4 linked regions of the Homo sapiens genome follow. Changing the gene in region 1 together with any one later gene gives a genetic interaction. Each region holds a gene or a part of one and is shown on either strand. Other genes may lie near its edges.

Region 1 (3,500 bases):
CATGGTGAAACCTCGTCTGTACTAAAAATACAAAAAAAATTAGCCGGGCATGGTGGCGGGCTCCTGTAGTCCCAGCTATTCGGGAGGCTGAGGCAGGAGAATGGCGTGAACCCGGGAGGCGGAGCTTGCAGTGAGCTAAGATCGCGCCAGTGCACTCCAGCCTGGGCGACAGAGCAAGACTCCGTCTCAAAAACAAGCAAACAAACAAACAACAACAACAAAAACAGAACTTACAAGAGAAATAAGGGTGTCTTTAAGTGGATTATAGATCATGGAACTGAAAAGGGTGAGAGGTGATTCAGTGACATTTAAAGTACCTGAAGCGGCCTGGCCCAGTGGCTCATGCCTGTAATCCTAACACTTTAGGAGGCCAAGGCAGGTGGATCACCTGAGGTCAAGAGCTCGAGACCAGCCTGACCAATATGGTGAAACCCCGTCCATACTAAAAATACAAAAAGCAGCTGGGCATGGTCACGTGCACCTGTGACTACAGCTACTCAGGAGACTGAGACAGGAGAATTGCTTGAACCCTGGAGGCGGAGGTTGCAGTGAGCCGAGATCGCGCCACTGTACTCCAGCCTGGGCGACAGAGCGAGACTTCCTCTCAAAAAAAAGAAAAAAAAAAAAGGACCTGAAGGGGTTATTTGTAGTTCAGTGATGCCTAAACTTAACTGGAACATTAGGTTATGATACAAAGATGTGGACTTCATTTGCAGGAAGAGGGATTTAATGTGCATATGAGAAATAATTTCTTAGACTAATAGTCTATCTTAGTCTGTTTGGGCTGGTATAACAAAATACCATAAACTACATGACTTATAAGCAAGAGCAATTTATTTCTCACAGTTCAAGGTGCTGACAGATTTAGTGTCTGGTGAGGTCTTGAGGTTCATAGGCGGTGCCTTTTAGCTGTGTCCTCATGTGGTAGAAGAGACAAGGCAGCTCTTTGGCCCCTCTTATAAGGGAACTAATCCTGTTTATGAGAGCTCTACTCTCCAAGTCCTAATCACCTCCCAATGACTCCACCTTTTAATACCATCACATTGGTGATTAAGTTTCAATATAGGAATTTTAGGGGGACACAAATGTTAAAAGCATAGTCCTTTTATTAGGAGACCAATAAAGACTTTTAAAATTATTAAACAATAATTTGCTGTCATTAGAAAAATACGAGCTGTTAGGAAGCAGCCAGCTTGGTTTTGAAAAGAGCAAGACATACCAAACCAATTATTCATATGAGTGAGTGACAGTCTATCTTGATTTCAACACGGCTTTTAATTGTCCCCTACATTGTTCTCACACAGTAAGCTTGGAAGGAATGATATTGAATACTATTAAGAGGTCTTGAGGTAGGAGTAAGCCTTACTGTAAAGAAAATACAGATGACTTAAAAGATTTTTATTTCTAAATGTTAAAAATAATGAAATAACTGGTGTGCAAAGGGCATAACTTGGTATTGTGGGATGAACACTGGACCAGGACACTTGACCGCCTGAGCTCTATTTGTACTGTTAATTATCTTGGACACATAACTTGTTCTTTTGGACATCAGATCCTGTAAACTAGTAATATTTGACTACCAGATCTCTAAGGTTTCTTGCAACTCTCTTGTTTCTTTACTGTAATCCTTTAGGACCAGCCCTTTTTATATAGTACCTCTACTTTGTGATCCTAGTTTACTACTGGTGTAGTATTCAGGAGCAACATAGGGTAAGTTTATGTTCACATGAATTTTTAATGGGACAAATTTGTATTGTTCTTGTCATATTTGTATATCTAAGAGTAGGAATAGAAAAATGTAATTTAATTATGAGCTTAGTATTTGGTAGTGTTGGGAGGATGGAAGTAGTGTGGAGGAAAAAGTAAGCTAGGTTCCGAAATCATCTGGGATGGTAGAAATAGATTCTAAGGGGTGGTGAAGAATAACAGTAATGCTATAAAAGTTGTAAATAAAGATATACCTTACATGGGCTGTATATGGTAAGGAATGGAAAGTGGCACTGGGACTTGAGAAGAGGAATTCAGGGGATTCTTTTTTCAGATATAGTTGAATAAATAACATTCTCTAAGTCATTGACACATTGGTTTTAACTAGTTATTAAGATTATTAGGAAGAGGAAGAAAATTTCATGTTTCTAAACTTTCTTTTAGAACACGAGGCCCTTTGAGAATCTGATCAAAGCCATAGACCTTCTCCCTAGAAAAATATACATACGTATGTGCTTCATTTTGCATGCAATTTCAGGGGAATCAGAAACCTATCCCCTCTTCCAGTCAGTAATCCCTGATTAATACAATATTGCTGGCTGGTGGGTTTCTAATGGTGTTCCTGAGTAGCCAGTGGCAAGATAAAGAGCACTTGTCACTGGGCAGCGGGGTAGAAATAGAGTGGAAACTTACATCAAAATTTTGATTAAATGATAAATGCATAATTGATCATTTAATTATTGTTATACAATTGTTATAAAATTAATATCATTTATTGCTGTATTGTTGTCAGTGTTATCTTAAAGATTTTGCTTTTTCAAAGAAAAGTATGTTCTTTCCCATATTGTAAAATAAGGTATATAATAAGAGATAAAATTGCCCATTCTGTATACGATTCTTATGCTTTACATTGTCCCCATTTTAATTATACAAAACCACATCTAATAAAAACGTCAAGACAGATATCTACAATCCCACATGTTAAATAATTTTTCCTTTTTCCTTTGAATCTCTGTTCTTTCATGTACATAATTTTTACATTATTGGGATAATTTTAAATTCTGTTTTTACTTGTGAGCATTTTTTTTCTTGGTGCTCAGTCTTGACCAAAATTAGGTCTTTTAATTACTTAAGATTTTAGTAATGTTAATAGGTATATATAGTTACCTGCAAAATGTGATATTTTTGTTGTTTTGATTTTCTCCTTCCTTTCCTGAAATCCATCTCCCTGAAGTCCTCATCTGTGCTCTCTTGACTCCCTTGTAGGATTTGCCACTAGTGAGTAAAGATACTTTTCAAGTCTTTATTTAATGTCATTTGGTCTTCACAGTAATCCGGTTAGGTAGATGAACATTTCTTTGTAGTAGCAATGGCCTCTTCTGTCCTTTTCAGTCCCTTAACTTCTGCCCTAGTTTTAGACCCTTATTACTTTATGCATGGGTTTTGTCCCTGCTTTCAGGGACTTGCCCTTTCAATCCATCCTATACAGCACATCTAGATTATTCTTCCTAAGGCATGACTTTTATCCCATCACTTCCCTGCATAAACTTCAGTGGGCTTTATATCTTAGCCTTAAAAATTTCCACCTAACTAGATTGCTAGCCATATTGTAAACTGTTTCTCTACAAATACCCTGTCCCTCCAGTCACCCTATATTGTTCCCTGTTCCTTGGACCATGTGCTTTTTTGTGTCTGTTCTTTTTTTTATGCCACACCCTATGTCTGAAATGCCCTCTCTCTAACTGGTGCCTATTTTTCAAATGTTAGTTCAAAGGTCAGTCCGTTCCCTGAAA
Region 2 (4,152 bases), on another chromosome or scaffold:
CAAAAAATTAGCCGGGCGTGGTGGCCTGTAGTCTCAGCTACTCGGGTGGCTGAGGCAGGAGAATGACGTGAACCCAGAAGGCGGAGCTTGCAGTGAGCCGAGATCCCACCACTGCACTCCAGCCTGGGTGACAGAGCGAGAATCCGCCTCAAAAATAAATAAATAAATAAACGTTTCCATATTCTTAGTGTCTGGGGCTAGGTAAAGTTTGTTCACTCATTAATATTCCAGGTGCCAAACCTGTGAGCAATGACACTCCAGTAGCAATGAGCATTTGTGGCATCCACATCTTGGTTTCTGAACTGTTGTCTGCTAAAAAGTAACCAAGGCTCCCTGAAGAAATGACTGCAGCAGGGAGAAGGGATGACTGAAACATCTTGTATCAGAAAGCAAGAAAATGCTCAAAGAAGCTGGATTAGTGCCCAAAGAACATAAGAACTGTCTTGAAGGGGCTTCACTGGCCACATCTGGGGGAAAAAAAATCGACCAGAAAGAATAATAATTGATTATAAAAGACAATTTTAAAAAATCCAGGAATCCATAGTGAGTCTTCGAAAAAAAAGAAAAAAAGAGAGGGTATAAAACTGATATATATTTATCATATATATAATCTATAGTTTTATATATATATATATAAATGCTGCTAAAATCACTGAGTGAAAGGCTGATAGAGAAGAAGATGGTCCCAGAGAGTACCTGTTAATTACAAATGGAAGAAGGAAACATTAAATGGAGAAATGGGGCAGACACCACCTTTAGCAAGCGATCAAGCTTCACATTACCAAAAACGGGACAAACTGACATTATCCAAGTGTGTTCTGCAGGAAAAAAGAAAAATTAACCTTTATCTAATTACAAGGCAAGAGGGAGGGGAGGATTAGACAAATCAAGAATATGGGATATTCTATTACACAACTGGTCTGGACCCGTCAAAATTATCAAGGTGATGAGACCCCCCCTAAAAAAAGAAGGACTGATCTGAATTAAAGGAGACCGAAGAGAAATAACTCCAGGCAGTGAGTGAATCCAGCAGGGGAGGGGGTCTAACAACTGAAATTGAAATATAAACTGTCTATTGGCTAATACTGCATTGGCTAGTACTGCATCGATATTAAATCTCTTGGGTATGAAAATGGCACTGATGTCATGAAGAATGGCTTTGTTCTTAGGAGATGCACTGCAGAAGTATTTATGATAGGAAATCTCTGAAAAGGAACAGACGTTGAGTCCCAGTCTTTCGGCCCAAGGTTCGCGCGTGCGCACAGCCCCCTTTCCGAGACTTATTTCGCGCGGTCGGAGAATCAGATTGTGCCCACAAGGCGGAAATGTACGACAGCGGGTTCCGGTGACCACGAAGGCGGCAAAGGCGACGGAATGGAGGAGGTGCCTCACGGTAAGCTCGCGGAGGGGGCGTGGGTCGCGGGGCGAAAGTGTCGGGAGCTGCTCTAACTGTGGTCTTGTCTCTGCGCAGACTGTCCAGGGGCCGACAGCGCCCAGGCGGGCAGAGGGGCTTCATGTCAGGGATGCCCCAACCAGCGGCTGTGCGCTTCTGGAGCGGGGGCCACTCCGGACACGGGTGAGAAAAGGGCAAGGCCTCAACAGGAACTTAGAGGCGCAGGCCCGGAAAAGGCGGGGCGTGGGAGGGAGGGGGCGGGATCTGCAGAATGACTGACAGCGGCAGGCTAGAAGGTATTGTATTCGGAGAGGGGTGGGGCCCAGAAGGGGCGGGGCGTGGAAAGTGGGCAGGGTGAGGGCGGAGCTTGGAATGACTGACAGGAACGAGGCCTTTAGAAGGCGAGCGCGAAGGACCTGGCGCGGATGGAGGGTGGAGACTGACCGGCGCGGAGTCGAAAGGGACATTAATTAAGAGGGTCGGGGCCAGAGGTTTGAGTGACAATAACAGACCGCAGAGAAAAACGGGATAAGCTTCGAAGTCGGGGAGTCTTCGGACTTACATCCTGGCTCTGCCAGCTACTTTCTTGACACAATTTTCTTCCTTTTGAGGAGTGATTCTCCCACTCATTCAGCAGAAATGTGTTGATCGCCTCGTAGGTTTGGTGCTGTCCTGGGGACACAGCTGGGGATCAGGCGTGGTCACTGCTCTAGTGGAGTTTAGCTTTACTGGGGAAACAAACACGTGAGCTAGCAACTAAACCACCGCAGCTTTAAGTGCTGTGAAGCACAGATTCCAGGATGAGAGGACCCAGGGAGCCTGCTCAGAAGGACCTTAAAAAGCAGGAGGCAGGAGGACAATATTTTTTTTTCTTTTTTTTCCCCCTTTTTTTTTAGACAGAGTCTTGCTGTGTAGCCCAGACCAGAGTGCAGTGGTGTGATCTCGGCTCACTGCAACTTTCACCTCTCAGGTTCAAGCGATTCTCGTGCCTCAGTCTCCCGAGTACCTGGGACTACAGGCGCCTGCCACCACGGCTGGCTAATTTTTATATTTTTAGTAGAACCAGAGTTTCACCATGTTGACCAGGTTGGTCTCGAACTCCTGACCTCAAGTGATGCATCTGCCTGGGCCTCCCAAAGTGCTGGGATTACAGGCATGAGCCACTGCACCTGGCCAAGGGGGAGAATCTTGAAGGAGTTCAGAGAGAGACTTGGATTTGATTCTTGGATCCATGCGGTGTGACCTTCAGCAATAGTCCTAACCTCTCTGAGCTTCTGGTTCCTCATCAAAAATGGAGACAGGCCGGGTGCAGTGGCTCACGCCTGTAATCCCAGCACTTTGGGAGGCCGAGGCGGGTGGATGGATCACTTGAGGTCAGGAGTTCGAGACCAGCCTGGCCAACATGGTGAAACCTGTCTCTACTAAAAATACAAAAATTAGCCAGCATGGTGGTGCATGCCCGCCCTCGAGGCTGAGGTGGGAGGATCACTTGAACCCGGGAGGTGGAGGTTGCAGTGAGCTGAGATCGTGCCACTGCACTCCAGCCTGGGTGACAGAGTGAGACCCTGTCTCAAAGAAAAAAAAAAATGAAGAGAAAAATAGTTATCTCTGTCAATGCAATGGAGAGACTGAACTGAGCCTCAGTGGAGGTTTATTGGGCCAGAGCTTGAGGGCGTGCCCTGGAAAATACAAGTGACAGAAACATCTGTGGCCTGTGCTCGATGGAGTGGTTCCAGAAGGCTGGTGTTTATATATTTCATTAAAAGGGGAAAAAGCATGCAGGAAAAAGTGCAGTAGGCCTCGTGGCAGGTAGTTACATTCTTGTGAGGTTTTAATTCGTGCCCAGTATATCTACACTATTCAGAAAATAAAGTAAACATTCAAAAGAGGGAATAAAGGAAGAATTAATTAGGCAGACGTCTCAGGGTAGGAGAGGAAGGACTATCTCATCCCATCTTTGTTTGGCATGTGGGAGGATAAGCTTGTAATGGACATGGTCAGTGTGGCGTTTAACAGACATCAGTAATAGGGAAGGAGTTAGACTGAGGTTACAGTCCTAAAGTTACAGTTGGCATGTCCTTGTTTATGGGAGGATACTCATCTTCAAAGATTTAGGGGCCAGCAAAGGAGTTCCTTAGGAGCAACTTGTGAGGGCAGTCATCCCACAATGGATTGCATGGGGCCTTTGGCCTTTTGCAGGTGTCTGGTTAATGTAGAATGCTTTGACACAAGGTTGGGAAGTAACAGCTGTCTGTTGATGGGGAGGAGGACAGCAGTGTTGGGAGGTTTCCAGGCTTAACTTTCACTTGAGTTTGGCCAGTCATGAGACTTTTTAATTTCCTTTATACCTCGTGTATTGTTTTAAGGATTTGAAATAAGATAGTTTCATTGGCAGATACTTAGTATGTGCCTGCTGTCTATCAGAGTTTCTCAACCTCAGCACTGCTGACATTTGGGGCAGGATCACTCTTTGTTGTGGGGGGCTGTCCTGTGCATTGTAGGACATTTAGCACAATCTGGGCTGTACCCATTAAATGCCAGCAGTACCTCTCCTGTGACAATGAAAAGTGTCTCCAGGCTGAGCATGGTGGCTCACACCTGTAATTCCAACACTTTGGGAGGCCAAGGTGGGTGGATCACTTGAGGTTGGAAGTTCGAGACTAGCCTGGCCAACATAGAGAAACACCGTCTCTATTAAAAATACAAAAATTAGCCAGGCATGGTGGCAGGCACCTGTAATCCCAGCTACTTGGGAGGCT
Region 3 (3,500 bases), on another chromosome or scaffold:
GAGGTTGCAGTGAGCTGAGATTACACCATTGCTCTCCAGCCTGGGCAACAAGAGCGAAACTCCATCTCAAGAAAAAAAGAGTTCCATGCATGCATTCGAAGCAGGCTCTGTGATAGCATAGAAGAGACTCATCAAAGTCCCACCTGGACCATGTCTTTGTGGCTGACTTAGCGAGGAGCCACCCACCCGGTCCTGTGACCACTGGGGCAGCCCTGGCCTGGCAGAAGCTCCCCTAGGCTCTGGAGCTCCTGCGGGAGCCAAGGAGGCCGCTCTTGGTTTTCAGTAGCATTTGGTAGGGGCGTTTCTTTTCTCTCCCTCCTCCATCTCAGCCAGAGACATCCTGCCTAGCATGAAAGCCATGTTCCAACATTCCTCTGTGCTCTTCTCCCACAGCAATGAGTCGGATGTGGTCGAGAGCCTGGATGAAATCTACCACACGGGGACGTTTGCCCAGATCCATGAGATGCAGGACCTTGGGGACAAGCTGCGCATGATCGTCATGGGACACAGAAGGTGGGTGGCTGGCGGGGGACAGTGGGAGGTGGGGGCAGAGTACCACGCGGGAGACCAGCCAGGATGCCTTATGCCCCAGCATCAGCCTCTGCCCTGTCCGTCAGCCCAGCGGCTTTCTCACTAGCACTGAGGCCAGAGCTGGGGGTGAGAGTGAGACATGTCACCTCTGGACCCCTCCTGTCTCAGAAAGGGGTGAGCTGCAGGGCCAGGCATGGTGACTCCTGCCTGGAATTCCAGCACTTTGGGATGTCAAGGCAATTGGATCGCTTGAGCCCGGAGTTTGAGTCCAGCCTGGGCAACGTAGCGAGATCCCATCTCTGCAAAAAATGTAGAAAAATTAGCTGGATGTGGTGGCTCATGCCTGTGGTCACAGCTACGCAAGAGGCTGAGGTGGGAGGATCGCTTAAGCCCAGGAGTTTGAGACCAGCCTGGGCAACACAGCAAGACCCTGTTTCTATAAAAAATAATAAAAAGTTAGATGTGACGGCGTGTTCCTGTAGTCCCAGCTACTTGGGAGGCTGAGGCAGGAGGATTGCTTGAGCCCAGGAGGTAAAGGCTGCAGTGAGCTATGATCACACCACTGCACTCCAGCCTGGGCAACAGAGCGAGACCCTGAGTTCAGGTGGTGCCAGGTGCTCTGAGGGGAGACGCAGACAGCGTGAGAGGTGGAGGTGGGTAGCTTTTGTGAAGTGCTTGGGGACAGTCTTTGCGATGGTGTCCTTGAAATCGAGACCTGAACAACAGGAAGGAGCTGCTATGAGCTGAGTCCAGGGCACAGAGTCTTGGAGACCAGCCTGTGCCCGGCCAGGCTGACACCGTTTTCGACAGGAGGCCCTGGGGCTTGTCACTGCAGCTTATCCACGATACTTAGGATGGGGACAGTGATGCATTGGCGTGGGATGCAGGGAATGCCTGAATCTGGCTGGAGTCTAAGGGGTGGAGGGGACACTGGTTGGGAGGCCCCGAGAAAGCGGCTCACGTCTCCAGCTTGAGGACCCTGTAGCCACCCTGTGGCTCCAGAGGTCTGGGCTCAGCGGGACCCTTGGACCACCTGTGCCACCAGGGAGGCCTCAGCCGGGTCCAGCTCCCAGCCTCAGCGGCTGATTCACACCTGCCTTGCTCCCGTGTCAGAGTCCATATCAGCAGACAGCTGGAGGTGGAGCCCGAGGAGCCGGAGGCGGAGAACAAGCACAAGCCCCGCAGGAAGTCAAAGCGGGGCAAGAAGGAGGCGGAGGACGAGCTGAGCGCCAGGCACCCGGCGGAGCTGGCGATGGAGCCCACCCCTGAGCTCCCGGCTGAGGTGCTCATGGTGGAGGTAGAGAACGTTGTCCACGAGGACTTCCAGGTCACGGAGGAGGTGAAAGTGAGTCCGTGCGTCACGCAGGGCGGCCACAGCTGCCTCCCCCACGGGCTCCCTTGAGCCGTTCCTGCGGCCTCTCCGAAGAGTCATCTCCCACCCTGAGCCCCTTAGGAAGGGTCTGGCCTGTCTGGAACTCAATTCTAATGGAACATAGAGGGTGCTTTTCCTCCCAGAGGTCTTCGGAAGACTCTGGGATGGGAGAGGCACAGGAAATTCGCTGGAGCCTGTAGCTGCTCAGGAAGGAGACAGGGTTGGAACCCAGGTCCAGCCCCAGCCCGTGTCCCCTGTGCCAAAGCCTCCAGCGGTTACCAAGACACCTTCCAGCCCTGGCTTCTTCCCACCAAGCCTGGGAGGTTGGTACCAGTGGTTGCAGGACAGGAAACAGCCTGTTGGCCACCCTGATCCCCCAACCTAGGCCGTCCTGCCTGCCTGGTGGCACAAGGAGTCAGCTTCCGAGGTGGGCAGGCTCTTGGCGGTGCCACCTGCCCTCCCGCTGTAGGGACAGTCAGCGAAGCTAACCAAAGGCCTGAAGCGTGTCAGCTCCTTACCTGTGTGCCTGGTGTCATCAGCCTCTTCCCCAGGCTGCTGCAGGGCCTAGGGGGAAGTGCTGTGAGCAACTGGTGATGTCTGCTGTGGGCGCTGGCAGGGGTGGAAAGTCCTGTCCACAGGCCCACCTGGGTTCTTGAGGTCAGCACTTCTATCCTGCCCCACTACCCCTGCGAGGTTTTTTTTTTTCTTTCTTTTTTTGAGACAGAGTCTGGCTCTGTCAACCCAGGCTGGAGTGCAATGGAACGATCTCAGCTCACTGCAATTTCCACCTCCCAGGTTCAAGTGATTCTCATGCCTCAGCCTCCCAAGTAACTGGGATTGCAGGCACGTGCCACCACACACGGCTAATTTTTGTATTTTTAGTAGAGACGAGGTTTTACCATGTTGGCCGGGCTAGTCTCAAACTCCTGACCTCGGGTGATCCGCCCACCTCAGCCTCCCAAAATGCTGGGATTATAGTCGTGAGCCACTGTGCCCGGCCACCTGTGAGTATTGAGCACTTGAAGTAGAGCTGCTGTGGCCAAGGAACAGAATGGAACATTTTATTGGCTGGGTACAGTGTCTCATGCCTGTCATCCCAACACTTTTGGAGGCCAAGGAAGGAGGATCACTTGAGCCCTGGAGTTCAAAACCAGCCTGGGCAATATTGAGACCCCTGTCTCCACAAAAAAAATAAAATCCCTGGGCATGGTCGCACACACCAGTGGTCTAACCTGTGGGAGGATCGCTTGAGCCCAGGAGATTGAGGCTGCAGTGAGCTGTGATCGCATCACTGCACTCCAGCCTGGGCAACAGAGTGAGACCCTGTATCTAAAAATTAAAATAAAAAAATTCAGGCCGGGCACGGTGGGCTCACGCCTGTAATCCCAGCACTTTGGGAGGCCGAGGTGGGCGGATCACCTGAGGTCAGGAGTTTGAGACCAGCCTGACCAACATGGAGAAACCCCGTGTCTACTAAAAATACAAAAAAAAATTAGCCAGGTGTGGTGGCTTATGCCTGTAATCCCAGCTACTCGGGATTACTGAGGCGGGAGAATTGCTTGAACCTGGGAGGCAGAGGTTGCGGTGAGCCGAGATT
Region 4 (3,500 bases), about 53 Mb from region 1:
GGATGTCTTAGGCAACCTCTGGCCCCCTCTGTTTACCAGCACCACAGTGCAGGGGTTCAGCAGTAATGTTGGATCATTGGCATTCAGGCACATAATAGTAGTTCATTAAATGTTTGTGCTTGACCAGCCAGACTTATTATTGTGAAACCTACTGAGACACTGCAACTCCGGCTTTATGGGTAGCTCAGTTTATATGAGGACAACTAACCTAGGGTAACTGCTGCTTCATGATTTAAAATTGAATGGATCTCTTTTGGTAATGTAAAATCAAACTGCAGCAAGTAGCCCTCAAGCTGAACTCTGAATTATACAGTTGCTTCTAAATTCATATGCCATTTTACTTATTCTTTTTGTCTTAAAGGCATTTTTTGTTACAAATGTATTTTTATATAAGAGACTCTAATAAACAGTGTATTTCTCTTTAGCATACAAACGACTAGATGGTTCAACTGAATGCTGTAACAATCACAGCCTCACAGATGTGTGCTTTTCCTACAGAAATAATTTTAATAAGCGTTTGGTAAGTTGTCCCTGAAGCAGTCTTGCTTGTCTGATATAATTACTAAAAAATAAGCATATAGAGCTAAAATGGAATCTATGGAAACTTCTCTCTTTTGCTCTATTTGTATCATTTTATTAAAATCTCTACATTTCACATGTCACATTTCATCTGAAAATCTTTAAAAATTTATAGTGATAATATCTTATTTGACCCAAATGGGGTACTTGAATCTATTTTATAGTAGATGCACATAAATGGCATTTCTTTTATATGAACCTCATTCCTGATATGCTAGGTGACATGAAAAATATTGAAGGAATGTAACTTAGGTTTTTCTTAATCATTTTTAATATTGACTGATTAATATTTTATTTATAGCATACATGTCTTCCTGCCCGGAAAGCAGTTGAAGCAACTCAAGTTTGCAGAACCAATAAAGACTGTAAAAAAAGCTCAAGTTCAAGTTTCTGTATAATACCTTCTTTGGAAACTCACACTCGCTTAATAAAAGTAAAACACCCACCTCAGATTGATATGTTATACGTAGGACATCCTCTGCATCTTCACTACACAGGTGAGTATTTTTGTGGTAGACCCTTAGAAAATCATTAAGATCACATATAGTCTCAGTGGTAGAGACTCACTACAAATCCTTGAATTAATACATTTATTATAAATTTGATCATTTATCAAAGTCTTGTTAACTTGTTCTTAAGCATTAAGTGAAAATTATGCAGTAGGAAAATAATCTGAATTTATAAAGTAAGGTGGAGCTGAATCCATGCCTGCCTATGGAGAGTGACACATTTTTCCTTCCCTACCATTTATGCCCAGGTCAAATAGGTGATCTCTCAGATGTCCTCTGAGAGTTTATTAAATTTATACAAGCTCCCCAAAACAGGCAAGAGCAACATACCCTAGAGAATGCCAGGATGCATGGGGATGTAACTGTAATTTATGTGTGACACATGACTTTCATATGAATATACTTTCAAAACTGGGCCAGCATAATCATTTTAGCAGTGGCAGCATCATTGGACTAAGTTCTTTATGGCTAAAGATCATGTAGTCTAACTCATTTTGTTGTACAAGATTTTTAAAATAGTTTACCATGCGATTTACCCATTAAAGTTTACAGTTCAGTGGGGTTTTGTTTGTTTGTTTGTTTTTGTTTTGTTTTGAGACAGATTCTCACTCTGTCGCCCAGACTGGAATGCAGTGGCTCAATCTTGGCTCACTGCAACCTCCACACCTCGGGCTCAAGTGATCCTCCCACCTCAGCCTCCCAAGTAGCTGGGACTACAGACGTGTTCCACTGTGCTGGGCTAATTTTTTGGGTTTTGTAGAGACGGAGTCTCACTTTGTTACCCAGGCTGATCTCAAACTCCTGAGCTCAAGCAATTCTCCCTCCTCAGCCTCCAAAAGTGCTGGGATTACAGGCAAGAGGCACTGTGCCCGGCCCAGTGATTTTTAATATATTGAGTTGTGCAACCATTACCACAAGCTAGCTGCAGAATATTTTCATCACCCCAAAAAGAAACTCCATAACCATTAAGTAGTCACTCCCTGTATCTCCCCAACACCCCCAGCCCTTGGCAATCTCCAATCTACTTTCTGTTTCTATAAATTTGCCTGTTCTTGTCATTTCATATAAATGGAATATTTTATGACTAGCTTCTTTGATGTAGCTTAATGTTTTCAAGGTTTATCTGTGTTGTGGCATGAATTAGTACTTCATTCTTTTTAAGGCCAAATGATATTCCTTTGTATGGATAGACCACATTTTCTTTATTCATTCATAGTTAATGGATATGTGGGTTTTATGTTATTCTTTTTTTTTTTTTTTTTTTTTGAGACGGAGTTTCGCTCTTGTTGCCCAGCCTGGAGTGCAATGGCGCAATCTCGGCTCACTGCAGCCTCTGCCTCCCGGGTTCAAGCAATTCTCCTGCCTCAGCCTCCAGAGTAGCTGGGATTACAGGTGCCCACCACCACGCCCAGCTAATGTTTGGTATTTTTGGTAGAGACAGGGTTTCACCATATTGGTCAGGCTGGTCTCAAACTCCTGACTTCAGGTGATCTGCCCGCCTTGGTCTCCCAAAGTGCTGGGATTACAGCGTGAGGCACCGCACCCAGCCTATGTCACTCTTTAAAAGACTCTCTCATTGCTCCATAGTCATATCCTGAGATACAACCGAGGTCATTTTTCTTATCTATTAGTTTGACACTAAATTACTGTAGACTGTAACTATGAAATAAAACCTCAACAAATGAATAAATGTCCCTAGTGGGGGTAATTCAGGAATGTGTACTGTGAGTTCTGACTAATTACAGGATAGTTTTAAAATGTTTTGAACAAAAACAGGATTATGGAATCCACAGAGTAGATGAGACTTTAAATCCCCTCATCTTAATCCTTGGTTTAGCCATGAAGAAAAAAAAAAGACCTGAAAGAGGTTAAGTAGTATAATAGTAGGAGTAAATGTAATTTTAAGGTTATACCTCTTTGAAAGGGTAAGGACTCTTAATGTAAATTTCTTACTCTCGCCTCAAAATGTAAGTACACACTGGGACGTATTTTTTCATTCTGCTGTTTTTATTAGATGTTCTAGAAGTATTGATTGCTTTTATATATGAGGTATATGGCCTGCATATGTTTAGGAAGGGCTTTCTCAATCAGTTTAATCTGCTAGCCCAATTTTTAACCATATGGTAGAATTCATAATGCTGTTGATTCTCTGGTATGAATAATATTTATTATTCCTTATTTTTCTTTTTCAGTGAGCATCACCAGTTTTATCCCACGTTTTAACTTTCTAAGCATAGATCTGCCAGTGGTTGTGGAGACATTTGTCAAGTATCCTTTCTGGTGTGAAACATGTTTTAAAAGTGTGTTACTTGGATCTTGATCAATTTTACCTTGAATACAGCATTACAAATATAGACCTCACAAGTATCACTTAATTGCTAACAACTAAAAAAGAGTCTTGAAAGATGAAAA

What was found. Genes that interact genetically often act in the same process or in processes that back each other up.
Region 2: changes in ABCB7 (region 1) and NUBP1 together harm fitness more than expected from each alone (negative genetic interaction), as found in Homo sapiens cells (one large-scale study listed by BioGRID).
Region 3: changes in ABCB7 (region 1) and LONP1 together harm fitness more than expected from each alone (negative genetic interaction), as found in Homo sapiens cells (one large-scale study listed by BioGRID).
Region 4: changes in ABCB7 (region 1) and MBTPS2 together harm fitness less than expected from each alone (positive genetic interaction), as found in Homo sapiens cells (one large-scale study listed by BioGRID).

The regions. Positions count from the first base shown.
Region 1 is NC_000023.11:75,149,784-75,153,283, reverse strand, and holds part of ABCB7 (iron-sulfur clusters transporter ABCB7, mitochondrial), read left to right. Parts: intron 1-3,500. UniProt on the Homo sapiens protein: Exports glutathione-coordinated iron-sulfur clusters such as [2Fe-2S]-(GS)4 cluster from the mitochondria to the cytosol in an ATP-dependent manner allowing the assembly of the cytosolic iron-sulfur (Fe/S) cluster-containing proteins and participates in iron homeostasis.
Region 2 is NC_000016.10:10,742,490-10,746,641, forward strand, and holds the start of NUBP1 (cytosolic Fe-S cluster assembly factor NUBP1), read left to right. Parts: upstream 1-1,352; 5' UTR 1,353-1,374; coding exon 1,375-1,393; intron 1,394-1,471; coding exon 1,472-1,576; intron 1,577-4,152. UniProt on the Homo sapiens protein: Component of the cytosolic iron-sulfur (Fe/S) protein assembly (CIA) machinery. Required for maturation of extramitochondrial Fe-S proteins.
Region 3 is NC_000019.10:5,710,147-5,713,646, reverse strand, and holds part of LONP1 (lon protease homolog, mitochondrial isoform 1 precursor), read left to right. Parts: intron 1-393; coding exon 394-513; intron 514-1,644; coding exon 1,645-1,876; intron 1,877-3,500. UniProt on the Homo sapiens protein: ATP-dependent serine protease that mediates the selective degradation of misfolded, unassembled or oxidatively damaged polypeptides as well as certain short-lived regulatory proteins in the mitochondrial matrix.
Region 4 is NC_000023.11:21,877,617-21,881,116, forward strand, and holds part of MBTPS2 (membrane-bound transcription factor site-2 protease), read left to right. Parts: intron 1-425; coding exon 426-520; intron 521-880; coding exon 881-1,076; intron 1,077-3,280; coding exon 3,281-3,356; intron 3,357-3,500. UniProt on the Homo sapiens protein: Zinc metalloprotease that mediates intramembrane proteolysis of proteins such as ATF6, ATF6B, SREBF1/SREBP1 and SREBF2/SREBP2.